4 separate regions of the Homo sapiens genome follow, and all the other regions are reported to be linked to region 1. Evidence: microRNA targets listed by miRTarBase, many of them from high-throughput screens and not tested one by one. Region 1 holds a microRNA gene; each other region holds the end of a gene's coding sequence. Distances are between the middles of the regions.
What was found. Region 1 holds the annotated microRNA hsa-miR-615-3p (UCCGAGCCUGGGUCUCCCUCUU, at 2,787-2,808, shown strand). A microRNA usually pairs through its seed, bases 2 to 8, with sites in the 3' UTR of a target mRNA and lowers its output. Matches are read on the target gene's strand: a 7mer-m8 pairs with bases 2 to 8, a 7mer-A1 pairs with bases 2 to 7 and ends in A, and an 8mer does both.

Region 1 (7,115 bases):
CCACCCACTCCCGGGAGTTGGAGGCGGGGGGCGCCGTGAGAGCAAGCCCCAGGCCCGCGCCAAGCTGGCTGTTGCGAAACGTAGCGGAGGCGGAGAGCGGAGGGAAAGAGAAGACCGCGGGACTGGAGCCCTGTCGGCAGGGATTGAGCGATTCAAGGACATCTCGAGAGAGAAAGCCTGGAAACTGAGCTCTCGCCTGCTCTGGTACTCCTGACGTGGCCGGGACAAAATTCCTTCTTCATTACAGCTCCAGCCGGGCTGGTTCCTTACTTTTCTCTCCTCAAACGGGTGAAGAGGCGGGTGAGGAGCGCAGCCGGACCCTAACCATTTATCAACCCTGGCCTTCTCTCTCCAAGCCTGGCCAGAGAAACCTGAGTGGGCCTACAGGGAGAGGTGTTGAGGAGGGTCTCCGGAGGGAAAAAATCCGCCAGAGTTTTCCGGGCCCTTCAGATTCCCTCCAGCGCCCCCACCCTCGCCTCCAGTGCCTCCACCAGTGAGGAGGGGGCCTTCTCCTGGCGGGGCGGAGATTTCCTGGGAAGAAGCAGGCAGGGAAGTATGAGACTTGGGGCTACGGGGGAAGAGGATGGGGCCGAATGGCTGCAGATACCCTGCGAAGGCTACCCAGGCGCCTGCCCTGCCCACCCCCCAGGTCCGCCCCATTCCTCTTGGTAGCTCAGAAATTGCTCTCTTGTGAACCTTATGGATTCAGGTCCCTGGAAAGCCTAGCCCAGAGACCTTTTCCCCAAAGGGCACATAACGGGCCTTTTCCTCTGCCATGCTCACGTAATATTTGTGGAGGCTTCAATCTTGCTTCTCCATGTCCTCAATTAACATCTATTTTCTGTCTAAAACCTCTGGCATAGGTACCACATAAGGATCGCACACAGGGAAACAGAGCAGTCCTCTAGACCATTGTCTGGCTCTGTCCGTGTCCACACACACACTTGAAAATTGCCTTGTTGCCACTCTGGGGACCCTAGCATGGTGAGGTCTAGCCAACTCCACCTGGCTCCTCACCTCCAGATCCATCCCAAACAGCCTGCAACACCCTCAGCTTCATGACCCCCCTATCTTGTTCTGACCACTCAGGATCCCTCCTCCTGGGCGTCCTGTCTACCTCTTCAGAAGCTAATTCTACTTTCTCTTGCTGATAGGCACCTCTTCAGCAGTAGTGGAGCCTTAGGGCCTGAGAGGCAAGGGACTTCTACCTTTGGTTTAGGGAACCTAAGTTAAACCCCATTGGTTCTCCAGCCTGGGCATAGGCCACCTTACCTAACTTAATCCCCTTTCCTCAGCCATTTTTGAAGATTGGAAGACCCTGGAGGTTGGGAGAACGGGACTTTCATTACAAAAAGCACTCTGTGCGTTATAAGTGGGGCCTCGTCTTTTCCCAATTTTAAATAGAATTTAAAAGGCTAGCTCAGGGGTTGCCCCAACAACCAGCTTCTCCTTCACAGTGTAGGAAATCCAGCCACCGGAAAGCAAGCTGGCGCTCCAGGATGCAATTCCCCCACATAGGCACCAGGTGTCGCTGTGGGCTTGTTGTCCCGGCTACCCCCAATTCCAAGAACCTTTTTTTTTTTTTCCCTCCCCCTTCCCTCTTTCTCTCTCTCACTCCCTCTCCCCCTTGGTTGGGCTTTGCCAACATATCGAGATGCTTTTCGCCGGCTTCCATCACTAACCTCCCGGAGGTCATCAAGCCAAATTTATGAGTGGCCGCTCGAGTCACGTGACTCTATTTAAGGCTCCCTTATTTGGGAAGAGCGCATAGGATAAAGAAAGAGATATCTCCACCTATAAATTGTCCACTTTGGAGAACAAAAAACCCCTCAACTTCAAAGAGTCACAAATCACCCTTAATCAAAAAGGGTGCAGAAATTTTTTTGGGCCCTCCCCGCCATGAGCTCCTACGTAGCCAATTCATTCTATAAGCAGAGCCCCAATATCCCTGCCTATAACATGCAAACTTGTGGGAACTATGGATCGGCCTCAGAGGTGCAGGCATCCAGGTACTGCTACGGCGGATTGGACTTAAGCATCACTTTCCCACCGCCTGCGCCTTCCAACTCTCTCCACGGGGTAGACATGGCTGCCAACCCCCGGGCTCACCCCGACCGCCCCGCCTGCAGCGCCGCGGCCGCTCCGGGACACGCTCCGGGCAGAGACGAAGCGGCTCCTCTGAACCCCGGGATGTACAGTCAGAAGGCGGCTCGCCCGGCGCTGGAGGAGCGAGCTAAGAGCAGTGGGGAGATCAAAGAGGAGCAGGCGCAGACAGGGCAGCCCGCCGGACTGAGCCAGCCACCGGCCCCGCCACAGATTTACCCGTGGATGACCAAACTGCACATGAGCCACGGTAAACTTTAGGACTTCATTTTGCGCTCTCGGGTCCGCCTGGGTTTTATAGGCCATGCGGGGCAAATAAAGAAAAAAAACCTGCGGCCATAAATTTTACGATCCAGGCATCAATGGCTCGTAAAACTGTCCACTAAAAGGCTTAGAGGCTGTGTGCGCCCAAATTTACGACGACATAATTGGATCATAGGAACAAAACGTGTATAAAAGGCAATATTCAATTTTTGGGGGAGAGGGAGGGAGTTAAAAAAATAGAGGGATCTGAAGGGTGAGGAGCGCGGGGCTCCAGAGCGGGGATCCCCCCGCGGCTCCCTCCCTCCCTCCCCTGCGGAGCCGGCTCCGCCGGCGCTTGCGGCTCCGGAGGATTCCAGCGACTCGGGAGGGGCGGGAGGGGGGTCCCCGGTGCTCGGATCTCGAGGGTGCTTATTGTTCGGTCCGAGCCTGGGTCTCCCTCTTCCCCCCAACCCCCCCTCAGCCCCTCCGGCTGCAGAGTGAAGGCTGCGGTGGAAAGTTTCCTGCCTGGGCGGAGGCGCCTCTCCCGGGGCTGGGCTGGGCTGGCCCGCCTGCGGCCCGCGTGGCCTGTCTTGCGGCTCTCGCCTCCTCTCCCTCCGGCCGCGGGTGGGGGCCTGGGCTGGGGTGGGGACGGGGGAACGCTGCAAGCTATTCACCCCTTCCTGGCTTGGGGTGGGGTTTATGTTCCAGAGACGGACGGCAAGCGGTCCCGAACCAGTTACACGCGCTACCAGACTCTGGAACTCGAGAAAGAATTCCACTTTAACCGCTACCTCACTCGCCGCAGGCGCATAGAGATCGCCAACAACTTGTGTCTCAATGAGAGACAGATCAAGATCTGGTTCCAGAACCGCAGGATGAAGTGGAAGAAAGATTCCAAAATGAAAAGCAAAGAGGCTCTTTAGAGGCAGCGGGGGAGGCCCGCAGAGCGCGCCCCTAGCCGGTTCCTGTCCCTGCGCCTTTCCTTTTCGCCTTTCCTCTCTATATTTCGGGTCGGGGGCAGGTGCTGGAGCACTGGGCTCCCGGGCCCCACAGACAAAAGCGCTTTTCCTTGGCATTCCGCATCCCTACCGACCCAGGGTTCCCGCGGGGCTGTCGGCGCTGCCCCATCTCCCCTCAGCTCGGCTCAGCTCGGTACCCGGGGCCCAGGGCAAGCTCCGCAGGACTTCCCCGGAGGGCTGCGGCGTACAGGCTGGCGCAGAACGAACCTTGGCCTGGGCCGTATCTCCGGCTCCCAGCCTCAGCGCGGCCCTCCCGAGTTAAGGTGGGCCCGGCCCGCGCCACAGGACCCTCGCCGGACCCTCTAACCTCGCCCTCTCCTTTGTTCCCGGCTGGACGGGTTAGACAGCCAAAGGCTGGCGAGAGTCTGGCCCTAGACTCGGGGTGCTTCCTTGTAGCGACTAAACTAGATTTTCACTTATGAATGATTTGCATATGAAAGGAGAGCATCGGCCTAGGGCCCCCACAGTTGCTCTATGCTTTCCAAACCTTATCTCCACAACCTCTTCCCCCCAAAACCCGGGAACCTCCCCAGCCTGCGCCTGCTGCATGCCCTCTCAGGCCGGCAGCCCCAGCCTGCTAGCTAGCTCAACTAGTGGGGTTTCCTGGCACTGGACCCCAGCAAGTGGTCCTAGAGGCCCTTTGCTGTCCCATAGTCCCTGCCACGAATTTCTGTGCCCTCCTGACCCATTGCTGTTGTCCAACTATTTATTGACTCTGGGTCCTTCCTGAAACTATATTTTGTCATATCAAATAAAGAGAGAACAGGACTAAAGATGCAGTGGCTCCTGTCTGTTTGGGGCATGTATTGGGTAAAATTGTCTAAATGGGCTGTGAGATGTAGAAGGAGACCCACAAACTTTAAGCCACCCCTTTAAAAAATTTTCTAGCTTCTAGGGGCAGTGAGTAGAGGGAGGTGAAATTGAGCTCCTTTCCTGTTCCTTGGCTGCAACAAGAGCCTCTGGGGGAAGAGAAGGGCACCTAGGCCTCGAGTACTGGCTTTTCCCATGCTGTGGCTGTCCAAGGCCTTCACGCCTCTGCACTCCAGGAGGCCTCTGGACTGGCAGCAGCCCCCACTGTGTGCCAAAGCTGCGGTGCAGGAACCAGTGGCTCCACCGTGCTCAGCCTTAGGACCTTCTGGGCCTCTGAAGATCTTTCCTGGGCCTAGGTGGTCCCTGAGAGGCCTTGCTGGACATAGAGGGAGGGCTGAGCCCTCACTCTAGGGACCCATTTGGTCTCATAAGGGCCTCTAGAGGGAGGTGGTATTGCTTGGTAAGGGGGTGTTGGGAGAGTTGGAGGAGGTGTGCCTCAGTATCTAAGATACTGGGGAAGAGGGAGCAGGGAGGACAATCTGCAGTGTGTATCAGCCTGGCAGGAAATGTTCAGACTGTTTCCACCACCTTCTAGGGCCTCGGGCTATGCAGGACAATTAACTGGGAAAGGAGCTGCATAGACCAGTGCTGGAGTCACGTCTGTCTGCCATCATTTATCTCAGTCTCTGGGATTTTGTGTGGAGGGGAGGATGGGTTAAAAGTGGGGGTGGGAGGAGGCAGATAATTCAGGTAGTGTCTGAGGATCAGGTCCTTCTCCAGGCTCCTGGGATGGGCTGGGGGAGGAAGCACTTTACAGTAGAAACAAATGTGGGAAGGGTCCATAAAACTTTACTGCATTTCCTCTCCCACCTCCCACAACAGGGTGATTTCCTGGAGCCAAGCCTAGGCCCCCCACACTGGTGGGGTGAGGGTCTGGAGCTTGGCTAAGGGATTGCACCAGCAGCCAAGAAGAAAGGGGAGCAGAGGGGCTCTGGGGAGGGGCAGGGGAATATTTATGATTATTAATGCTGATGCTCCTTGGATTTATTATAAGGACTAACTTCGCTGCATCCCACTGCCTAAGCTACCCATCAGTCATTTTTTAAAAGACCCAAGAGCCTTTCCTCACCCCATGCTTGGCACATAGGCAGTCTCAACAAATGCTTATTGAACAGTGCCCACAACTACCACCCTTCCCCTTCGCACTGCACTCAGGCCAGGTTAGGGCGCCTGTTGTCTCTCCTCAACTTGCACACAGCAGTTAACCCAGACCAGTGCTCTCTCTCTCTCTCTCTGAAATAAAATGTGTAATTTTCTTCAGGGAGTTATTTTAATTTTTTCTCCATGCTGAGTAAAACTATTGAGTGAGCAGTGAAGCGTGGAGAAGCACTGGCGTCTCCGGTGGGTAACAGTTAACTAAGAAAGAGGCTGTGGCACCCGCACCCACCTGTTCCAGCCTCCCAGGCTGCCCAGGCCCTGTGCTTCCTCCCCAGGGGACAGGCGCACCACCCCAGGGGAAAACCAAGGGCTTTGTCATAGATAGGGGCAATGTTGGTTAGAGCTGCCAGGCAGGGCACACCAGCCCCACCGTGCACTGACTGCCTCCTCCCGGCAGGGTTTGGGCCTCTCCTTCCCTGGAGGAGCTGAAGGTCTGACTCATTTTGGCTTGGGTAGACACAGAGTGCCTGCCTGCCCTCCTCCTTCCTGTCACAATCTGCAGGTCTGCCCAGGCACCAGCCTTGGCTTCTGCAGCATCGTCGGGAGTCAGCGGCGGCAACCAAGCCAGAGGCCTCGTACCTACTTCCCTACGCTGAGGGTGCATAAGGCCCAGATCCCTGATTTCTCCCTGAACAGGGGCTTCTGCTTTGGGGCCTGGGGTAGTTTCCCCACCAGCCAGCCTCCTAGAACATATTTCCAGGTAACAGGGTCTGGCATTGCTCTGGGGGAGTTTATGGAGGGGTCTTCTGGGTTGCAAGCAGAGACTATGGAGCCTGCCTCTCCACTTTGCCCTGGAACCCACCCCCTCTGGCAGCAAGAAAGAAGGGGAAGAAGCATGACTTACCTTCCCGGGGGAGTGGGAAGAGGGGGGACACGGCCCACTCTGAGCAATTAGAGGAAAGAGGAGGAAAAAATAAGAGGACAAAAAGATCAACACGACCTCGAAGGCGACAGGTCCTTATGGAAATAAGTAAGTAAATAAATAAATAAGGATCCACCCTCTCCCCCCTCTCCACCCTGCAAGGGGGATGTGGGGGTGGGGCAAAGGAACAGCACCAGGGCTTTTTAGTGTAACTGAGCATTAGAGAAATAGGCATGCTTCTATGTGAATTTAGGAGTTTGAAACTTTTGGAGGTTATTTATGTGAATAGCCTGAAGGCAAGCCCGTGAGTGGCTCTTGGGGGACCACGTGATATCATTAAACCAAGTTTTATGGTGTAGGGAGAGCTGACAAACCCACAATATATTTACATCATATATAATCTTAACTGTCCAGCCACGCAGCTGCTGGTGAGGTTTAATGCTAGGACAGAGGGCCTGGCAGTTAGAGGGGATTACGGCGCTGGGGACGATGGTGAGAGAGGTTACATCTTCGCAAATGAATCCCAGGCGAACGCTGTGAGTTAATTCTCTCTTTCTCTCTCTCAGACCCTTTCTCCCATTTACCTAACCACCCCCCTCACTTGATAGAAGGCAGCTCCCACTTATTAGGGGGAGGGGGAAAAGGCCTTCCCAGGCTGGGGTGGGAGAAGAGAAGAAGCAGCAGAAAAAGCTGCTGGGAAGTAGGAAGATGGGGGAGCTTGTCTACCCTGAGCAGCCCTCCCCTTCCCACTCCTTATTCTCTCTGACTGCAAGTCAACTGGGGTAGAGAGGCCTTGGTTGTTTAGAGATTTGCCAGGTCTTCCTGACCCTTTCAGTTGAGAAGAAAGCAAGCGGCAGCAA
Region 2 (7,115 bases), not on the chromosome of region 1:
CAGTGGGCCAGTCCTTAAGGTGGTGTGGGTGCTGGGCTGTGGTTGTGGCCTTAGGTCTGCTGGCGGGTGTGCTGCACCTCCTTGGCCTCCCCTCTCCTGGGCTCAAGGAAGTAAACAAGTCCTCTGTATGATGGGGAGGCCAGGACCTCTCGTCCCTTTAAGGCAGCTTGGTGCCTGCCAGTCACCTCAGCGGGCGGCAGTCAGTGGGCTTGTGTGCATCTGTAAACTCAGCACTTTGGGAGGCTGAGGCAGGAGGATTGCTGGAGCCCAGGAGTTCAAGAACAGCCCAGGCAATGTAGTGAGAACCCATCTCTACAAAAAAATAAACTAGGCTGGGTGCGGTGGGCTCACGCCTGTAATCCCAGCATTTTGGGAGACGGAGGCAGGCGGATGACCTGAGGTCAGGAGCTCAAGACCAGCCTGGGCAACATGGTGAAACCCCGTCTCTACTAAAAATACAAAAATTAGCCGGGGGTGGTGGCGGGCGCCTGTAATCCCAGCTGCTCGGGAGGCTGAGGCAGGAGAAGCGCTTGAACTGGGGAGGCAGGGTTGCAGTGAGCCGAGATCGTGCCATTGCACTCCAGCCTGGGTGACAAGAGCGAAACTCCGTCTCAAAAAAAATAAATTAGCCGGGCCTGGTGGTGCACACCTGTGGTCCCAGCTACTCAGGAGGATGGCTTCAACCCAGGACATCAAGGCTGTGCAGTGAGCTGTGATCTGGGCAACAGAGTGAGACCCCATCTCAAAAGGGAAGCTCGAGGGCTCTGCTTTGTGTGCTGGTGACAGTGTTCTCAAGCCAGTTCTGCCCAAGAGCCAACAGCTCTCGGGACCCCACGGCTCCAGGACAGGGCTCCTTCCCTAGAATGTGCTCTATCTCAGGAATCCTCTTTCGAGGATCTGTGACGGGATCTAGGTCAGGGAATGTCCCCCCTGTCTCTGGCAAGCCAGGCTCCCCTTGGCCAGCCAGGTCTCATCTGACACGTTTTCTTTTCCTGCCCCCACAGGCCTTAGCAGTAGGAGGACTAGGCTCCATTATAAGAGTTCTTACAGCAAGAAAGACTGTTTAAAAAAAATAAAAAGACTCATGTTACCTTGAGAAGAATTCTGGATGCCCAGGCTGGTGAAGAAGGGATTGACAATGGACCATCTTCCTAGGAACTCCCAAGTAAACTATTTCAGGACATGTATCTGCTGAAATGTATTTTATTTTCAAGGTGGAGGGGAAAATCGTCTGTTTCCTAAATCCTGTTTAGGATCTGATAGTCTATGCCTTTGTCTCCGAGTACTGCAGAACTGACATTTTGACGGTCTACCAGCGTGGCGGCTGGTGTTGGTCAGATGCACCTGTGTGCACTGGGGGAGGGATGGTTTGGGCAGGTGCAGATCCAAGGGCTGTGGTAAACGGGAGAGCTTGTGTTTTTGAAGTGGAAAAAAACCCAAGAGTTTGTACAGACATCCTGTCTTCCCAGAGAAGGTGGACACTCTTGGGCTCATTGTAAAGTGCCTGCTGCATCAATAAAGCTCTTGGCTTATTAGTCTATACATTGCGGTGTGTTTCGTGTATGTAAAAAAAAATGGTAATGAATGGGATGGTAATGAATGAGAGTTCAGTTGTTGTTCCGGAAACCCGATGTGGAAGGAGTAGACCTGTGTCCCTGTTGAGCCACCCCTGGGAGCGAGCATGGCAATCCACAGGCCCTCTGCCACAGGACGCCAGCCTCGGCCTCAGAGCTGCCGGCTGCTGCAGAGAGGTGTTTGCTGAATAAACTATTTATTGTTTCTTATTCCTTTGATTTGTATGTAATTAATTTTGGAGCTTATTTAATTAATTTAATAAAGTGCCAAACATTTAATAATTGATCTAGGCTTTAAAAGTCTTCAGTTTGTGGGATTGCACTTGGAATCTTTTGAGGGTGGGGCCTCAGATGTGCCTGGTCACGTCTCCTGATGCTGGGTTGGCTGTGCTGCAGAATCACTGCTGCATGGACAAGCTTTCTTTAAAGAACTAAACGTCAGAAATGGGGAGCAATCAATCAGCAAATAGATGGTATAATTTGGTTCCCCATAACCAATAACAGAGCTTCTCTGAAGGGCAAAAATGCTTTTCTTTCCTTTTCAGCACATGTGACTGCAGCTTGCATTCTGTTAAAGGTTAGGGCCCCATTCACACTCCAGAAGCTCCTCTGGGTCATACAGCCTTTGGATACAGACTTTGACCAAAGTGACACAGTCCTCCCCTCCACAGCTCTCCCCTCCTCAGTCCCTCTTCAGAACCACTGCAATTCTTGGGGGGGGTAGAATGGGGCTGTTGGCTTCATTAAATTACGTATATTTATTCACCCAAATCCAGTCTGGGAAGGTTCTTTCTGAAAGAAAGACAAACATTCTCTAGCCCTTGAGGTTGGCCTTGGAGTGTTAAATATGAGACACAAAATACCAGATTTAATGAGTCAAAGAAATACTGACACACCAAACTAGTAAAATCCATTGTAGTTGCATCTGGATTGAAGAGCTTTAATCAAAAAGTGTATTGCACCACAGATGAATTTGCTACAGCAGTTTTCAAGAATACAATCCCTATTTACAACATGGAAGGAGAGCTCAAGATCCATCGCTCGTATAAAGGGCTATAGATACCGTCGCTAACACAGAAAGTTTTATACAAGTCAAAGTGCATTAAATCACTTAGAATATTTATTCCACTCTTCCTCTTAAAGCTGAAGGAAATTCAACATGCAGGAGGAAAGCCTAGTCAGTGAAGCCTCCCTAAAGTGAGTACAGACCTAGGAACGGGCCCCACAGCTACACCTGAAACTGCCGAGGAGTGGGGCCTGGGGTGCGTGTGGGACCAGTTCAATGGCTGGAGAAGCCACGGAGGCAGCGGATGGGCTTCTGTGGAAATGTAGCTGCCTTTGGCTGGCTGTGAGCTACCCAGTCTTAGAGATTCTTTCCTGGAACAGTTGAAAAAGGAAATCCTACTTTGAAAAAAGGCTACCTCTTACCCATCAAACTTGCAGAACAGAAGAGACTCCTGTTTCGTGTTCCCACCAGGTAAATGGAAATTCGTGTTCTAAACAAGGGATAACTGTCTGCAAGGAGGAGCCAGAGGAGGAGGTTAGTCACTGGAGAAGCGGCCTCTGGAAGGCAGAGAGCCTGAGCTGGGACTAAGGAGATGCTGCCCTGACTTGGTTCTTCATGGAAATTTCGTTAGGTTAACGTTGCAAATGCGTGTTTTTCTGTGACACATTTTATATACCTATTTTGGCCCTAAGCATGATTGAGAAATACAACTTTCCATCACTGGATAATGGATAATAAATTTAGAGGCTCCAGTTATTAATTTAGTTTTTTATTTAACCAGTGAAACTTTCATCAAACAATAAACGGTTTCCTTTTAGATTCAATATTGTGGCTTTTCCAGAACCAGCATGTTCCCTTTCCTCAGTAAACGAGGAATCCATAAAACAAGTTTTTGTTGGTTACTACCAGAGTCATGTGCATGCTACAAGTGCTGCAGCCAGCTGGGCGCCGTCTGGGTGTAGTGTCATTTTAAGTATTTGGGGTGGGATGAGGGAGAGAGAGCAGCTCCACAGACAAGGCAGACTGCCCCAGTGTCTCCATCGAGGCTGGGGGACAGCTGCTGCCCCCACTGGAGACAGCGGACTGTCCTTCAGTAGAAGACAGGTGGTCTGCATCGCCCAGCGGCAGCGCAGCACAGAATCAAGACAAAGCACACGAGATCCCACTGCACTTCAGAGGGAGCAGTGCCAGAGTGCGAGTGAGAAGACAAAGGAACAGGAATCCTAGTTTTAGGAAGAATTTCCTCTGGACGCTCTGATTTTAAGAACACCAGTTAAATGGATTTTATAGTACAGAAGACATGTTTATAGTAGTGAAGAACTTCAGCTATAAAAAATAGTTTAAAATGGTTTACCAGCAACCTATCCAAGACAAGTACATTCATTAAAAAGGCAATTGAGTGTATTTGGTACTAAGGGTCTTTTCATATATTTGCTAGTTTTCTTAAGTAAAGTGGAGATACTGTCAGAAAGGTGCATTTTCTCATTCATCCACACCGACCCTTAAAGATGGATCCTCTAAAGTTCTAGGTGGTTTGAGAGACAGGGTGAAAGAATATTTTCTTGAGAGGAAGGGATAAAAAGCTTCTAACTCATCTGAATTTTTAAAAGCCACTCCCATAGAGTTCCCATGGAGTTGGCTGTTCCTGGCAGAGGCAGGTGGGTTTGGCCTGCTGGGCACCATCTCAAAGGGCCGTCTCTACCTCCAGTAGCAGCGCTACATGGTGACTCAGGTGTGCCTGCCAGATGCTGATGGCTTCAGCTGTAAGTGCTACCGTGAAGTTAGAGGATTCAGGTGCAGATGGGGTGCTGGCTGGAGCTGGGATATTAGCAGCACTGTGGAAATCTGGGTAGTGCCAGGACCCTCCTGTTTGGTGACCAGAATGACAGGATCAGCTACCCCCTGAGGTTCAGGTCAGCCTGCAGGGAAGTGGGCCTTAGTCTTGTAAACAATGTTTAGACACTTGTACAAAATACTGCAGTTACAGTGATTAAAAACCCACCCAGACTGGTGTGTCAGTGTTCTTTTCACAGAAAAAGTGTCAACCCACGGAGCTCCATCCTTGGGTAGTCCCCTCTAGGACCATGGTATCCGAGGGTTTGAGATAGACGGCCGGATGCTGCCCTTGGGAGCTGGTTTGGACCCAAACCATGACATCTGCATTTGAAACAGAAAAGGCTTCTGAGATGCAAATCAGGACTTGGTGCCAGGGAAACTGAACCGCCCCTCCCCTCCCGTGAGCCTGTCACTCCTGCCCCCCACACATCCTGCCTCTGGCTCTGAGCAGAGCAAGAAGATGGTGCCAGTAACCAGTCTGCAGGCCCGTGCTCAGTACAGGAGGGAAATGAGAGAAAAACACTGAGTTGACAGGAACAAGGTAGTGGAACTGCAGGTATTTTTTCCTATTAGAGCATTTATGCAGACGCTTTTGGAATTTGAGTGCCGAGCCAGACCTGGGGCTCTCGATAAAGCGCTATCAATGAAAATGCTTTGAAAAATACGTGGCCTGTTGGTCAAGTACAGCACAGACATTTGGGCACAAAGGATGTCATCGCTAAAAAGTGCTTGGATCAAGTTCATCCAAAAGCAGCCAAGCTGATCATGCAGCTGTGCTGGTGCCTACACTCGGGTGTGGGTCTAAGGGGTCTTACACTGCTACTGCTGGGATAACTGACAACGTATCTTGGAAGCTGGAACAGTAGACCAGAGAACCCTACCTTATATTCCAGAGTTTCCTTGAGCATGTTCTCCTCCTCTTGGGAAAAGTTCAGCAACACTGACACAGCTTTTATAAGATGAAAAGCCTGAAACACAGTAAGTTTTGCTGCCATAGGCCTTGGTGAAGGTGAGGCGGGGTGGGGTCGGGGGAGCTACGTGGCATTTCCTGCTTGCTTTGGTTAGCAGGACCAGGTGGTGGGTGACGCTCTGGCACTCTGAAGTTTGGCAGCAATGATAGGTTCTTTCTTCCCCTGCATCCTCGGGGGCCTGGCAGGCTTAAGGGAACTGCCCCAGCAGCTACCCTACCCTTTGGCAGGACCCAGGAGCGATGGGTGGATTCCGTTCCCGGCTTCCGGCCTCTGGCCTCAGCACCCAGGCCAGGATTTAGAAGTGGAGCCTATGTCTCCCACCAGGAGCCAGTTCCTGCACGGCCTCTCCCGCCAGCCGCTCACTCCGCAGGCCAACGCCAGCAGGAGAAATGACTGGGTGACCACAAGGGCGTCAAACCAGGATGTACGAGGAAAAGAGAGAAAGGGGCTGGGCAGGGGTCCCTGCAGGACAGACTGTAGGGCGGGGCCTCAATACCCAAAAGACACCTCAAAAGCCCTTTACCTCGGATTCGCGACAAGACATGAATTTTAAAACCACATGTTTAAGGTACTCAAAGTTGATCTCGCGGGCATCTGTCAGGTCAGTGTTATTCGTGACGGAAGGCGCCATGTTTGCCATCTCAGGTCCAGGTTTCTCCCGGACTTCGAAGAGCTCATTATCGGGTCTGATTTTCTGAAAAACCAGTGGGAAAGATGCTACACCGAACCCTCTGAGACAGGTGGAAAAAATCACACGGGAGGTTCACCTGGTCCAAACTATGATCACTATCGTAGGGCAAAAAGGGCCCCACCTGGGAAGGAAGCACCTCCAGGTAGGCTTGAGGAGGGAGTGACATCGTTTGGGTAAATTCAGACATTCCGTTTTCCATGGCAAGAACACATGTCCCTGGGGCCTGAAGCTGCTCGCATCCCGCATCAGGCCAAGCACTCTGCCACACACACACACTGTTAGAGCATCACTGCGCTGGCGTGGCAGGCAACCCCACTTCCAGATGAGGATGCAGGCTCAGAGAAGGCAGGAACAGGGCTGTAGCCACGGAGCTGCTTCAGAGGTGCATGCAGGCTGGCAGGCTGTCCCACCAGCTAACGTTGGATTGCCCAGCGATCCCTTGCAATTAATTAGGGGGTGGAGGGAGCATAGTCAGGCGGCGAGGGACCTCAGGAGGACCGGGCACAGGCAGCAGGGGGAGTGCTGGGAAGTGGGGCCAGCTCCCATGCGAGTACTCACCAGCTCCTTCTGCAGAGTCTTCCGGAGCTCCAGCATCCGCTGCTGCATCTGCTTTATGGTCTGCGACAAGCCCCACCCCACAGAAAGCCAATCGTTAGATGCATGTTTCACCAAAGGAAACAGACCCGAAGATCCCACGGGATCCCCTGTACACCTGTGAGGAGCCTCTGCCCTGAGAAGTCATCCTGAGAGGCTGGTGCTCAGCTGTCGCATGCTTGTGCCTACGACTGTTGGGCTGTCATCCCTCTTGGGCCACTGCTTTCACACGCTTGAGTCTCCACGTCCCACAGGGGCCACAGTCCCTCTGTGTTGACATGAGTGCCCCAGCGCTGCCTATCCCTTCCCGGGGGCTTGGTCCACCACACACAGCCCAGCTGGAAAAGGCTCTGGACCATAGATTTTGCCCTCAAAATTCAATTTTTATGCTGTGATCCCCAAGTAGGATACTTAGGCGAGGACTTACGGTTCTCATCACTACT
Region 3 (7,115 bases), not on the chromosome of region 1:
TCCTGGCTAACACAGTGAAACGCCATCTGTACAAAAAAATACAAAAAATTAGCCAGGTGTGGTGGCAGGCGCCTGTAGTCCCAGCTACTCGGGAGGCTGAGGCAGGAGAATGGAGCGAACCTGGGAGGCGGAGCTTGCAGTGAGCCGAGATTGCACCACTGCACTCCAGCCTGGGCGACAGAGCGAGACTCCATCTCAAAAAAAAAAAAAAAAAAACACCAAAAAAAAATTAATAAAATTAAACTAATGCATGGAAGAGTTTGTCCTAGTATATAGTAAGAAGATAGAGTAGTATATCTTGGCTCGTATAGTGCTTCTGTGGTTAAAGGGGCAAATGCCCCCAAGCGTTTTCATGAAAGTAACACTTCTGCTGCAGACCAGTCATGCCAACTCAGCTATGGCCACCTTCTGTGATTCCAACGCTTTTGTCCATTAAGGCTTGACCTCAGCACCCACTTAAAAAAAATGTGACCTAAGGAGAAAAGTGACTGATAACTGCCAACTCCTACCCTAAGTTCACATACACATAAGGGTATGCAAATGGGCTTTGGATATGGTTTGCGAATGATACAGCAGAGCACATTTCATCTCTTAATAATCACTTTTATGCCACTGAGGAAATTTTGAATGCTTGTAAAATTTAGTAATTTTTCTGCCTCTCCTACTTACAGCAACACAAAAAGAAAAGAACATCAGGGAAACCTCACCATACAAAGGCAGAAGGGAAGGGATCAACAATGAGGCTCTAACACCCTTCCTTTAACATCAAGCAGCATGCCACCTGGTCCCCATAACCCTGCACCACGGTCCATGCCATACTGGACCATAGTAGAGGAAGTACTACTTAGCATGAAGGGAAAACAATGCTAACTTCTAAAGCTTGAATTTCATAAAAGATAAAGGAACTATAGCAAAACTACCTTTTTGTAACAGAATCTTAAAAGCCAACTGTATTTCACAGTGATTACCTCTGGGAAGTGAGAAGAGGGATGGACTGGGGGCTTTTTCCTTTGTGCTTTCCATCTTTCCATACTGCTCAAATTTCTAATCATGGACATATATTAATCATTTTGTCTTTAAAAAAAATGCTGGTAAAAGGCTGGGCACAGTGGCTCACACCTGTAATCTCAGCACTTTGGGAGTCCGAGGTAGGAGGACAGTTTGAAGCAAGGAGTTCAAGACCAGCCTGGGCAACATAGTGAGACCCTGTTTTTAAAAAAAAAAAAAAAAAAAAAAAAAAAGCCAGGTGTGATGTCACATGCCTATAGTCCCAGCTACTTGGGAGGCTGAGGCTGGAGGATTGCTGAGCCCAGGAGTTGGAGGCTGCAGTGAGCTATGACTGTGCCACTACACTGTAGCCTGGATGACAGAGCAAGACTCCATCTAAAGAAAAAAAACAAAAAATGCTGGTGAAAAATGTGATCAACAGAACAATTTCATTCTTTTAAAACCAGCTGTGAGTAAGCTATTCACCTATATAAAGTTTTTCAAAAGTACTATGTATTCTGGGGGAATTTAACAGATGTTAAATAAGAGCAGACACCTACCTGAAGAACAACTACACTGCTCTTTATTTAAATATCTAATACAGGAAACGGTATTTTTTTCAAAAGAAAATTATATTTTGACAGGCATCAAGAAAAGCAGCAGGACCTTCCTAACACTGTACTGTTCGAGCCCCTCTTCTCTGCCCTAAGAGACCAAATCCCATGACATTCTTATGCACACCTAACCTTAGATCCACAATCATGTTTACATTTCTAAGGGGCATGTATCTCATATATTTGTGTCCCGTTTGAGTTACATGAGACAAGAATGTTAATCCCTCCACAGAGTGCTGCATGTTGCCTATATATTCTAAACAACATGAACAAGGACACCCAGGAGACCTCAAATTAACCAGATGACTCTAATAATTGGAAAGACCAATGGCAGGCCATTTTCTCCCCACAGAGTGTTATTCTGGCCTGCAAAATGCTCAAAGAGCACATGTGTTCCACAAGGAGTGAGGAGGTACAAGGGTGATGGATGAAAAACAATGTCGGAGCAGGACAGTGGACAAGCTCAAGGACTGGTCAGTAAACGTGACGTAACTGCACACTCCCGGAATGTAAAAATAAGTCCGCCTAAGCCTCTCACAGCAAGTTAGCATAATAATTATACATTTGATCAGGATGCCTGGCTGTTTCTTAGGCTAATAATTTATTACGTGGACTTTGCAGTGACCAAAAGACCTAGGGGCAGACCAAACATCAACAGCAGTCAATGATTTCATTCACGCCCCTCTGCTGCAGCTCCTTGCCAGTAGGCTCGCGCCTTTTCAACCTAACGAGATGGAGAAGGCAGCTGCCCAAACGTCACCAAACACAGGCATGAAAGTGAAGGAGAAATGGGAAAGACTGGACCCACGTAGGAAGGAACACAGTGTTTCTATGTGTGAAAGAGGTGGGTTAGGATACTTCAGCGATAGATGGGCCTGTATAGAAAGAGAGAGGCCTGCTTAGGATCAAGAGAGGAACACCATCACATACTCAACTCTCGCTTGAGCTTGGTGTTGTGCTATGGATCTGGCCACAGCAAACTAAATTAATGTGGCTCCTGATTTCCCTAGAGAAAGGACAGAGAAAAAAAAAACAATGTGTAAATCTGTTAAGTGATGTGGAAACACAGAGTGGAAGCAGCCTGTGGAAACAATCTACTTTTGCCTAGTGAAGTCCCAGATCTATACCCTGCGAGCGGCAATCCCACCCCTCCATATGAATACAACCTAAAGAAACTTCTGCACAAGAGCACTAGGAGTCCTGGGGGGAAATGTGTGCATTACTGTGGGTGTTAAACAGGAAACAACCTACATATTCAAGAGAATTACGGTATATTCATTCACACAACAGAATACTACCCATCATGAAAATATTTAAACTATGGCTACCATACCACATGGATGATTCTCACAAACCTAATGCTGATTTAAAAAAAAATAAAAAAACCAATCAAGTCACAGAACACATACAGGATGACACCATGTACACAAACTTCAAGAACATTCAGAACTATAAAATATATAGAGATGCATTATGTAGTAAAACTAATTTTTTTCTAACAAGGGAAATGATAAACACAATTCAAAATAGTGTTTACCTTTGTAGAAGGAAGAGGGGAGACAGTCAGGAAGGGGCACCCTGAGAGCTTCAACAGAAGCGATAATGCTCTGTTCCTTAAGCTGAGCGAAACAGAAAGATGTACTCTCATCATTCCTATCTGGGATATATATATAAAACAATATTATCCAGAATAAAGGTGGGGAAAGGAAGACAGTCGAGGGGGGAGCCCAGCAATCCTCTCTAACTCTGACTTACACATCCGTCTGCCTAACCAACAGTGAGGAGACAGCCCAAGACTTCAAGGCAACAGAATCAACTCAGCTACAAGGTGACAAAAAAGAACACCTCCAGGCACTTCTCTGGGCTTTCTGGGTGAAACCAGCTCCACACACCGTCTTATTCAAGTGGCAAACTGTAAGACACAGCACCCTGTCCCCAGAGTTGGAGACAGACTGCCTTGCCAATACAAAAACAGAAAATATTCCCAAACTCAGGCCTATTTTGCCAATGGAAGGAAAGTCCCCAGATGGTTCCAACAGACAGAGAGCAATGGATTGAATTTAGGAACAAGGCAGTAATTTCATACAGCCCTGCAGAGCTGGGAGATTCTGGGACCAGTTTTAGTGGGGGAGGGGAGGTAAAAATACACTTGAGGACACATTAAATAGGGCCCCAAAACTAAGAGCCTAGCGCTTGGGACAGAACGTGTGTAATATGAAGTTCAAATGAACATGTGTGCCGAAGGCTAATGAGAAGCCCCTAGGGTGATTATATGAGCTTTACCTGCAAGAGGTGACAATCGAGTTTGGCACATGCTGAGTCTATTGGGAAATAATAATATCAAGAGATCTATACCACATCCATGTATGTACAGCTCCCGGCGCCGGCGAGGCAGGAGAGTGACTTACTCAGGGAAACTGACTGCCAGGAAGGCCGGATTCGGTCAGCCCAATCGGAGAAAGCCCGGGGCCGAGGCCAGAAGGTCCCTCGGGGAGGACAGAAGGGTGGTCCCGGCCCCAGGCAGAAGGTGGGGCTGCCAGGAGAGGGCGGGTCCCCGTGGCAGGAGTCCCGGGAGGCCTGGCTGGAGCCAGGCCGGGCCGCGGGACAGTCGGGGAGATGGAGGGCGGGGACCCCATGGGCGCTGGGGCGGGGAGGGCTGGGCCCCGGCGGCCACCCCGCTCCCCCGGCGCCCCGCCGCACCCTCCCGCGCTCACCTAGGCACGCAGCTGGACGAGCTCCGGTCCACCTCCCAGGTGGCGTACAGGTTCATCTGCACCGGGGCGGGGGTGCGGCCTGGCCCCGGGCCACCGGGAGGCGCGGAGCCCGAGGCCACCGCCACGGCCATGGAGGTGGAGGTAGACGAGGACGAGGAGGAGGCAGCCGCCGCCGAGGTGGACGAGGACGACGAGGTGGCCTGGGCCAGCTTGGGGGGCGTCGGCTGCTGCGGCGGCTGCTGCTGCTGCTGCTGCGGCGGCGGCTGCTGAGGGGACTGGGCGACCCCGGATCCCCGCTGGCCGCTGCCGCCCCCGGCGCCTCCGGGACCACCGCCCGCCCCTCCGCGTTCCGCCATGGCCCGGCTAGGCGGGGGTTACGGAGGCCGAGGCGACGCCGATCTGGCTCCCAGGCTTCCCCCGCGGCGGCGGCGGCGGGGGCGCGGCAGCCTCCTCAGCCCGCCTGCCCGAGCGCGAGCAGCCAGCGAGCTGCACGCACGCGCGGGGCCTCTGGGCGCGCGGGCCTCGCGCTCGACCGCCGCTGCCTGTTGCGGCTCGCGAGGCCGACACGGGTGGGCGTGTCCGGGAGGGGGCGGGGAGCCCGGCCCGCGCGGCCCCACCCAGCGCGGAGGGGCCGGGCCGGGCGCGCTCGCGCCCTGCGTGCAGCCACGCGCGCCCCTCGCTCCCGCGGAGTAGAAGGGGTGGTCTGTGGCCAGCGCGCGCCCACGGGTCCTGCCCTCAAATCCGCTGCCAGTCTGCCCCCGCTCCTCCCCTCCCCGCCCACGGCCGGCCGCGGCCCCGCCAGCGGAAACCCGGCTTTTCCGGGATTCGGTCCCTGCAGGGAGGGGGCCGCCGCGGGAGCGCGCCTCGGCCCCTCGGGTCTTCGGAGCCAATGCGGAACCCGCCCCCAGCGGTGGGGGTCTGCCCGGGGAAGCCGGCTCTCCGCCTGCCGACCTAGCCCTGCCCTGCGGCCCCGGCAAACAGAGAGGTCGGCGGAGACCCGGGGCCCGCTGCCACCGCGGGTGCCTGTGATCCGGGAAGTTCCCGCCCCGAGGGCAAGCGGGGGCTCAGGGACCTGGAGTCCAGAAGGTTCTTCGCATAAGTGAATTCTCAAGCTACCCCGGGGCCCATCTGGAGCCAACCTTCCTCTTCTTTCCCTACCCCCCAAATGCCTCTTTAGAGTGCCAGTGCTTTGTTGCTTACCAAATTTCTAAAATTCCATTCCTCCTAAGGCCTAGCTCAGCTGCCACGTCCTATCTGGATCATGCCCCCCACAACCCCGAGACCATCTTGAACCCTCCGGCAAGTGAGCGCCTCCACTGGTGCACTTAAACACCAACAGTAGTACAACAGCAGCGCATGACTACCCTCCCCACAGGCTGGCAAATGCCCATGGGAGCCAGTGATCCAGCCTGCTCTAGTCTGTCAGAAAGGCTGCTCAGGACCAGATTACAACCTGGAGAAAGTAAGTCCCCCCATCCCACATACAAATCCCAAACCCCAGCGACTAGTGTTGCTTGAACCCAAGGGTTCATATGGACTCAAGACAATTTAGCTTTTGAGCTATGTTGTCGCACAGGTAAGGACTTGAACTTCTGGTCACAAGGTCAGTTGGGAAGGCCTGCCCTGGCCTACTTCCCAAGCCCACTGTTACTTCCTCTGCCGCGCTAGGGCGCTAATCTGGCTATTTTTACTCCCCAAGGACAAAGTAGTAAGGTCAAACCAGACCTAGAGGTACTTCCCCCAAGCCTTCCTACAAAGCAGGGCAGTGGTGAAACACAGATTTCAGCCTGGGGTTGGCGTCACCACCAGTCAAATGCGCCGTCTAATCCCAGTTTATGTTCGTGGTTACTGGGGCAGCCCAGTGATTGTAGAAAGAGACTATTTTAGTCCTTTTGCAAGAAGGGGCTAAAAGGAGATGAGGGAGGCTCAGGAGTGTTAAATATTCATCTCTTTCCTTGGGAAACAGCTTTATTTACAAAACAGGTCTAAAATAAGAACATGAAATGACAAGTCCTTGGGAACTGCGGGAGAGGTGGTTCTTGTGTGAAGCCCAGGCATCCAGACGTAGGGCCAAAAAAAGGGCTAGTGTGAGGGGACCTAAAACTTGAACTCCTTATATTTCTTGCTGCCCCCACGGCTGTCCTGGGGCTGAGCTTTCCGTTTTTTTTGCTGTATAGGGAGAAAGAGACACAGGTTAAGACAGGTTGAACCACCCCCGGACCCCCAAAACAAGGGTGGGCAGCCTGACATAGACATAGAAGTCTGTGGGAAAGGCGCTGAATCTGAATTCTCTTCGAGCTCCCTCTCAGACTTGGCTGAGTTCCTCCCCCTCATCGTCCTTAAAGAGGGCAGCCCACTGGAGGATTTCTAAGACTTCCAAATCTAAGGAAGCACAGAGCAGCAAGCAGAGGCCACCCTCACTCTCACCACTAGAGGGCACCATGCCACTGAAAACGGCAGGCCAGGGTCCCTGGCTCTCACCCAGCCCAGCGCCCCTGGAAGCGCCTACCTTCTGTTTGGCAGCGTGCTCAGCCACCATGTCACTGAAGTCCTCCTTCTCTACTTGAGCCTGCTGCTCCCGCACATGCTCCTCATACTTCTGGGTCATGGCCATAGGATCCAGCTCCAACTCTTCAGGCGCCAGCGCCACTTCCACACCTTGCAGCTCAGGAGCCGGGCCCTTCCGGCTCATAACCTGGAAAGGAGATCAGGGCCTGGTCATCTCCAAAGAGTCAGAGAAGCCCTAGCTTCTGCTGCCTTTCTCAGCCTCCAAAAGCAGTATCCTCCAAGTACTCACCGT
Region 4 (7,115 bases), 55 Mb from region 1:
AGGGAGAAGAGCCACCAAAAGCTGCCTGGGGTGAAGTGGACTGGGACATGAGCATGCACCTTGGAAACCAGCAGTACTTAGCCTCCAGGGTCCTCCCTCTCCCACCAGGGCTGGTGGGAGCAGGTTAGATGTTCTTTAGTGCACACCTCTGGCTTTACATTTCCTACTTGTACGGGAAGAGAACCCACCCAAAGTCCAAATCCTTTCCTGGTGGGTAACTTTTTTTTTTTGGTACACAAAGGACCACCCACAGGTGGGCCTGTTCTTGCTTACTGACAAAATTAGAAAGAAAACAGACTAGTTCCAGGAGGAACTATCATTTCTTCCTGTGGTCCTTTCTTTGGTGTAACTTGTCCAGGTTTTCTAGCAAAGAACTGAGCATGTAATAGATGCTCAATAAAGACTGGCCATGTCAATGACGATGATGATGACGATGTATCAGACTGTTTTGGCAAGGGCTGAGGAAGCAGTTTCCTTTTATATAAACTCAGTCATCAGGAATTTATAAAGAAAAAGTTTATTTTCATCACAAGAAGCACACACACTATATACAATACACACCAACAGAAGTAAAAAAAAAGTGCATTCTGCATCTTCTACTGCAAATTCACAGTACAAAAGATACTGCCTTTAAATATATTATTTAAAAAAACAAGAAGAAAAACAATAAAAAAAATCATCGATATCTTAACGCAATTCACGGGAACCCACTGGCAGCTTCTGGAAAACCAAACAACTCATGGTGTGGAGCTCCTGATTGGGGAAGGGACAGGGATTGGTCTGTACCTACATTTTGTTGCAAAAGAGCTCAGGACACTAACAGAGAGGAAAACTAGGGTGGTCTAGGTGGTAATAAAATCTCTATGAAAGAAGAGTATGATTGTGTGACTGGGGAATGGGCAGGTGCTGGACTCTGGTGCAGAGGCTGCCTGGCCTGCGCCACCCCACGGCTGGCTAGCAGACCAAGCTACGTTCTTTCATTGGCTCCTATGGGACACAGCATGGGCCAATGCCTGCCTGGCCTGCAGGAACCGCCAGTGTTGTTTCTAGCAAGGCTCCTTGGAATAGATGTGAACACACAATGTAAAACTGCATAGCAGGATAAACACGTATGGAGTAGGACAAGCTCACAACCCAATGCTGACCACTACTGACAAGACCAAGTATCCAATCATAACAGATGAGACTTTAACAGTTTTGCATAAATACATAGTATTTGTAAACTATTATTAAGGCACTCAATTGTAAAACAATAATTACAGTGTAGGAAAAGAGGGAGGAAGCAGCTATCTTCTCATGCAGCAAGGCCGACAGGAAGGACAGTGGAGGACTGGTGATCTGCTTATCGGGACTCCTGTCTGAGACAGTGACTGAAGCCGGGGCCCCAGCACCTATGGCCAAACAAGAAGACGGCAGTCTCTCCAGAACCACCCAGGGCGGCACTGGTCACAGTTTCATTCCAGATCGTTAAGGTGATTTGCTCTGTGGCTCAGGTGACACAGTGTGTCTGGATGCACATGATCACTTGACTCGGTTTCTATACTCAAATATACAGATGCAGAGTGAACTCAAACACACAGGCATTCCACTGCAGAGCAGATGATAACAAAACAAGTGGCTGGGGACAGGGGTCATTCAACAACCTTCATTTGGTTTGCAATGTCTGCAGGAATCTGGGTAGTGGGACCAAGACAAGTGAGCCTGCTCTGTGCTAGCCAGGTGTCACCAAGTTTCTGATCTACCCAGCTCTCTTGCCAGAGGTGAAGGGGGTCCCCTCGCTGAGTTGCGTGTTTAGAGGAGCCCTGCTAGGTGGCCAGCCAATGAGAAGAGTTTTGGGCAAAATGTATTCTGGCACCAACAATTTCCCACCAATGGAAGGCAACTCCCTCTCCAGATGCCTCAGGTGAGATGACTTAATAGGATCTTGACTAAATTATGTAGCATTTGTTCCCACTAGAGAGAAAAGGTCCCCAGGAGAGTGGTAGGGAAATTCATCAACCTTCTAGAATGGACTGCCCTCAGATAAGAGTGCATTAGTCCAGGGCCGTGCTGAGGGTCTGTTCTGTTCAAGCTCAGCTCCACACTGCTGCAAACTCTGGACTTCTCCAGGGGAAAAGGGCTTTAGATTACTGGAATGCTCTTTAGCTGAAGAGGACAGGGTGGAGCAGAATGGGCTTGGACAGTACAGCTGTCTGTGTGCACCTGGTGAGCAATCTGTATGCTTAAGCAACAGGGTGCCAAGGAGAAGGGCTTGCCACCCAGCAGAGAGCTATTCAACAGCCCAGAGGTTGGCTGGGGTCCCTGCATGGAGAGCAAGGAAGCAGGGAATGTAAAGAGAAATAAACTCTGCTCTTAGGAAATACATGCAACCAGGGACCTTGCTAGAAGGCTCGGAAGTAGCCGTAAGACAAAGAAATGGAAATCGGCATTGTCAATTACCATCCGAGAGCAGCCCCGGTTCTCCTCTTCCCGTGACCACTATCCCCCTTATACTTAGCAAGACTTAAAGAGAAGACTTTCCTGTATCAATGCAAGGTGAAGATGTAGAAAAGTTCAGTCTAACTTTTGGCATGCCACATGAATTAATGTGAGGCAGAAGATAAGATTCAGCTGTTTTTTATAAAGAGTATCAAGCTGATTTAGAAAATGTTCCTTTTGTCCCAATTCAACAAATGCATTCAATGAAAATGATAGTCATAAAAAACCAGTGACTTGCACAGCACAGACCCCTGCCTCCTCTGCCTGCCTCTTTCCTGTGCCACTTATGTTTGGAATTTTCCCCATCAGCTAAGGTTGCATACAAAGCAAGGGCCAAGCTATGGCATATGTTACAGTGCAAACTTCCTTTTCACAGACAGCATGAATTCGTCTTTGCCCAGGTGTCCCGACACCTGACAGAATGCTCATCTTGTTCATACAGCATTTTATTTTTTTGAGACGGAGTTTCACTCCCAGTTTCATTGCACCCAGGCTGGAGTGCAGTGGCGCGATCTCGGCTCATTGCAACCTCCGCCACCCAGGTTCAAGCGATTCTCCTGCCTCAGCCTCCTAAGTAGCTAGGATTACAGGCACGCACTACCACACCCAGCTAAGTTTTTGTATTTTTAGTAGAGACGGGGTTTCACCATGTTGGCCAGGCTGGTCTAGAACTCCTGACCTCAGATGATCCGCCTGCCTCGGCCTCCCAAAGTGCTAGGATTACAGGCGTGAGCCACCGCGCCCGGCCCCATCATACAGCATTTTAAATAGCCATGTGCCATCTGTTTACATGCAACTGATCTGGGTTTCCAAAAATAAACCTTACCCTTTTCTCCAGGCCAGGCTATTAAGCATCAAGTCCAGAATGCTTCACTCTGCTCTGTGGACGGGACCAGCGCTCTCGTCTGGATGTTGATATGCTAGCTGTGCTTCCAAAAATGAATGGGTAAGTTTGCCAGAAGCCAAAGACCAACTTGTACTCTCCAGATTCCACACCCCACCCCCCAACTCTTTAGATAAGAAAAATTATGGCTTTCAAAATTAAAGTTTTCAAAAATATATCATTCTCATACATAGACGTGGTTAAAAAACCAACAAAAGCCTGTCATCACTAAATTTAAAAGATTATTTTGACACAAAAATTGATCTACCACATGAAATTTGATTTGGCAAAACATACCGAACTTGATATTTTTTGAGGCTATGCTTTTGTTGGCTGAGGGAAAGGGGGAACAACCCACAGGGGTTTAGGAATAAGTGGATAATCACCTTTTAAGGTGATTTTAATTGACACTAGTGGGAAAACAGCTCCCTATAAAGTAATGTATGTATTTTTAAAAATCACTCCAAGGAGACAAAGTCCTGGAGGGAGGATTTTTGCAAAAACTGTGCTCACTAGGTAAAATATGAACTAGCCTTGTTCCTGCAGATCCCTCCTGGGGTGCTTTCTAGAATAGCTTTGGGGAACACAGTTCTGGCCAATGTTAAGATGATGGCTCACTCACTCACTTTCAGAATTCAGCTGGTCCTTGAAGGCTTTCTGGTTTCACTGAGTTAATCTGGCGGACCCAGCTGAGGGCAAGATGGAATTGTGGAAGAGCTTCAGCCAACTGTGTTCACCTGCCTTCCCCCATGTACGCAACCTACTCCATCCTGCACAGGTGAGGCTAGTGCGGGGCTGGCAAAGCTTGTGGTCGGGAGGAGGGAAGGGTCTGGCCTTAGGTGTCAGAGAGGCAGAGGGCTTCACATTTACCCAGTTTCTTCCTACAGGGCCATGAGCAGCCCTGTGTGGCAAATCAAACCAGGGGTCAGCAACTTTTTCTACAAAGGGCCTGACAGTAAGTACCTCAGGCTTTGTGGGCCACATGAATTCTGTCACATATTATTTCTTTTTTTTACAACTCCTTAAAAAGGTAAAAGCCATCGCTTGAGCCAGGGAGGTTGATGCTGCAGTGAGTCATGATTGCACTACTGTACTCCAGCCTAGGTGACAGAGCCAGGCCCTGTCTTAAAGAGGAAAAACCATTCCTAGCTCACGGGGCCACATGCCATAGTTTGCTGACCCCTGAATTCAACCTTTCTGCTTTTCTGCAAGCTGCCTCTCTCTCGAAATGTTTTGACATCTAGCTTGCTGACACCTTTGATTCAAGCCTGGCGCAGCGGGACTGGCTGAGCTCACCTGAGTCTTAAAGGGGCCGCCCACAGAGCCAGGCAGCGACTACAGATCCCTCTTATACTCCCTCACTGCTGCTGGGAAGAGCTGGAGGGAAACAGGAAGCAGTAATCTCACTGCAGGAAGGGGCAACTGTAGACATCCGGGAAGCATCCCGACAGTCCCGTTCCTTTCGGGGAAGCCGCTGAAATCTCCTTTCCCTTCCCTAGATGGGCCCTAGTGGACCTAAGCATCTGGGCTCTCAGCAGGACGATGTGTCTCAGAACCACCACCTGAGCCAGACACTTGAGCAATTTCAAACCTAAACACAATCATGTGTTTCAGCAGCAGACACTCAACAATGCAGGTGGGCCCTTCCCCTTGAGATTTAAACTTCAGCATTAGCAACAACTGAGAACAACCCATACATTTTCCCCACCGGACCCCTGTGCTGGTCAAACACGTAACAACACAACCAGGACAGGGCGCCTGCACCACCATTCGGGCACAGAGTCAGCTCAACAACAGCGTGGGACTACTCATCTGATGACTTTACTCAGCAGTGCTTGGGGCTGTCGGGTTAAAAGTCTTGACACGTCTGGGGTCCCAACCAAAACACAAAACGAAAAATTCTTTTTTTGGAAAAACGCTTTCAGACAGAGCATTATTCCCTGGAACAAGCCTTGGTCATTCGTGTGTTTTAAAAATAAAAAGCGCAGCGAGAACAGAGGTAGGACTTAATGTTGCCATCCGAGAGTTTTCTGCGAGGCCAAGAATGAGCTAGAACGTGTGCCGCGGTGAGGCTGCCACCACCAGGACTCTTCTGCAGGATGCGAAGGGAACAGTCTGGATGTGTGCGCCTATGTGTGCACGTTCTTCCTAAAACATGGTTCTTCTTGAAGACACGGTGGGAGCGGAGTTTTGTGTCTCCTGGCCGGCGGCTCCTGGTTCTCCCAGGCCACACGACTGACAGCTCCCCTTCTTGTGCTGCATGTTGGTTAGTTTCTTCTCCTCCTCTCTATGGCAAGAGTAGGGGAAAAGTTAGGATGACTTCACTCGTTTAAGGGAAATCAAGATGTAAGGGGTCGATCCAAATCCACAGTGAAAGTGAGGGAGGGATCATATGAAAATATCCGCCCAGCCTGACGCAGCAAAAGGCGGGTCAGCTTTTGCTCATCCACGAAGGGCTCTTTAAGTTTTCTGGGGCGGGTTTCCCTGATGGTTTGGAGGTTGCAGCTGGGTCCCTCGGGGTTCCCTGGGGCTCATGCAAGAAGGAAGATTCACTCAAAGTGGTGTCCTGGGAGTCAGCGACGGTGGACGGGTCAGCCTCACTGGACAGGTCTTCCGTTGAGAAGGTGAGACTCCCCAGCTTGGCAAGAGAGTGTGAGCGCTTCAGTGGGGAAGAGACGGTGAGGCCCGCCAGCCGGAGCCGGGTCTCAATCTCCTGTGTCCGCTGCTTCACCAGCCCGGGCTTCCCACGGACACTGTGGATGCTATCGCTGCTGGAGCTCCGGGTCAGGTTGGAGCTCATGGAAGAGGAGGTGGGGGTGTAGCAGATGGTCTTCAGAAAGTCTTTTGAGAAACTACTGGTGTGGTCCAGGCGGTAGAAGAAAGGAGGGGGGCTCTTCAGTGAGCCTCCTTCCAATGAAGCGGGGGCGGCCTCTGACTTCTCATCACTCCCGGCCTGGCTGGGCATAACCAGGGGGCCCAGCTCGTGGAGCGCGGCTGGATCCTGGCTCTCCTCGGGGATGCTGGCCTCCAGCCTGCTGGCAGGGCCATCCCTGGAGGGAGGTGCTGGGTCTGCAGGCACGCTCTTCAGCCGCTCTAGCTCTTTGGTGTGCTTGCGGACCAAGCCTGCCTTCTGCAGCTGAATGATGGACTCCTGGTGCTGCATCAGGTAGCTGTTGGTTGTCGGCTTCTCAGATTCATTACTGAACAGAAGCCTCAGGTCCTTGGCTGGCTTCATATCTTTCTTGGGTGACGATTCTTCCTTTATTACCACTTCTGTGCTGGGAGGGTTCTTATCACAGTGAGAATTCTTCAAAAGGAGGGACTTTGGCAGGACTTTTGGGGTCTCTCTGGAAGGTTCCAAAAGGCTGGCTGGTGGCTCTAGGGCAGCTCCAGCCCCAGGGCCACTGGTGTCTGCCCTCCTGGAGCCTGCTGGTGGTAGGAACGGGGGAGGTTCGGTTGGGCCAGAGGCTGGCTTCTCCGGAACACGGGACCTGCTGGCCAAGTGGGCCACAGGGGAGGACGTGATGTGGGGTAGGAAGGCTGGCTGGGTGCAGATGGCGGGAGCATTGGGGTCCTCACATCGCTCCCTGGAGGCCTCAGGAGCCCCGCTGGCTGTAGGGTACATGCAGTCGGCACAGGATTTATAGGAAGGCTTCACTTTGTTAAGGATCCCAAATATAGCATCATCCTGCAAGGAAGGGGACAAGAGCATGGTGAGACGGTGCAGTCATGAGCCAAAGACCAAAAACATGAG

Region 2: miRTarBase lists ARPC5L as a target of hsa-miR-615-3p. The part of its 3' UTR that is shown has no 7-base or 8-base seed match.
Region 3: miRTarBase lists SF3B2 as a target of hsa-miR-615-3p. The part of its 3' UTR that is shown has no 7-base or 8-base seed match.
Region 4: miRTarBase lists SSH1 as a target of hsa-miR-615-3p. The part of its 3' UTR that is shown has no 7-base or 8-base seed match.

Annotation. Positions count from the first base shown.
Region 1 is chr12:54,031,224-54,038,338 of GRCh38, forward strand. MIR615 (microRNA 615) reads left to right here and starts at 2,727; the gene lies at 2,727-2,822. HOXC5 (homeobox C5) reads left to right here and starts at 1,827. Exons shown (of 2, transcript NM_018953.4): 1 at 1,827-2,353; 2 at 3,055-4,138. The coding sequence starts at 1,900. The coding sequence ends at 3,269. It also overlaps a transcript of HOXC4 not described here. RefSeq lists enhancers at 1,342-1,636, 1,631-2,782 and a silencer at 2,866-2,925.
Region 2 is chr9:124,875,874-124,882,988 of GRCh38, forward strand. ARPC5L (actin related protein 2/3 complex subunit 5 like) reads left to right here. Exons shown (of 6, transcript NM_030978.3): 6 at 1,005-1,860. The coding sequence ends at 1,067. GOLGA1 (golgin A1) reads right to left here. Exons shown (of 23, transcript NM_002077.4): 20 at 6,637-6,696; 21 at 5,911-6,081; 22 at 5,298-5,384; 23 at 2,402-4,737. The coding sequence ends at 4,657. Among named protein-coding and RNA genes, the nearest start is that of ARPC5L, 17 kb to the left of the region's middle. RefSeq lists an enhancer at 4,911-5,464.
Region 3 is chr11:66,068,043-66,075,157 of GRCh38, reverse strand. SF3B2 (splicing factor 3b subunit 2) reads right to left here. Exons shown (of 22, transcript NM_006842.3): 20 at 7,113-7,115; 21 at 6,825-7,010; 22 at 5,850-6,484. The coding sequence ends at 6,413. It overlaps PACS1 (phosphofurin acidic cluster sorting protein 1), which reads right to left and starts at 4,886. Exons shown (of 24, transcript NM_018026.4): 1 at 4,316-4,886. The coding sequence starts at 4,671. RefSeq lists silencers at 3,942-4,146, 4,207-4,356, 4,367-4,496, 4,647-4,696, 4,707-5,326 and 1 more and an enhancer at 6,874-7,033.
Region 4 is chr12:108,782,196-108,789,310 of GRCh38, forward strand. SSH1 (slingshot protein phosphatase 1) reads right to left here. Exons shown (of 15, transcript NM_018984.4): 15 at 1-7,049. The coding sequence ends at 5,793. Among named protein-coding and RNA genes, the nearest start is that of MIR619, 51 kb to the right of the region's middle.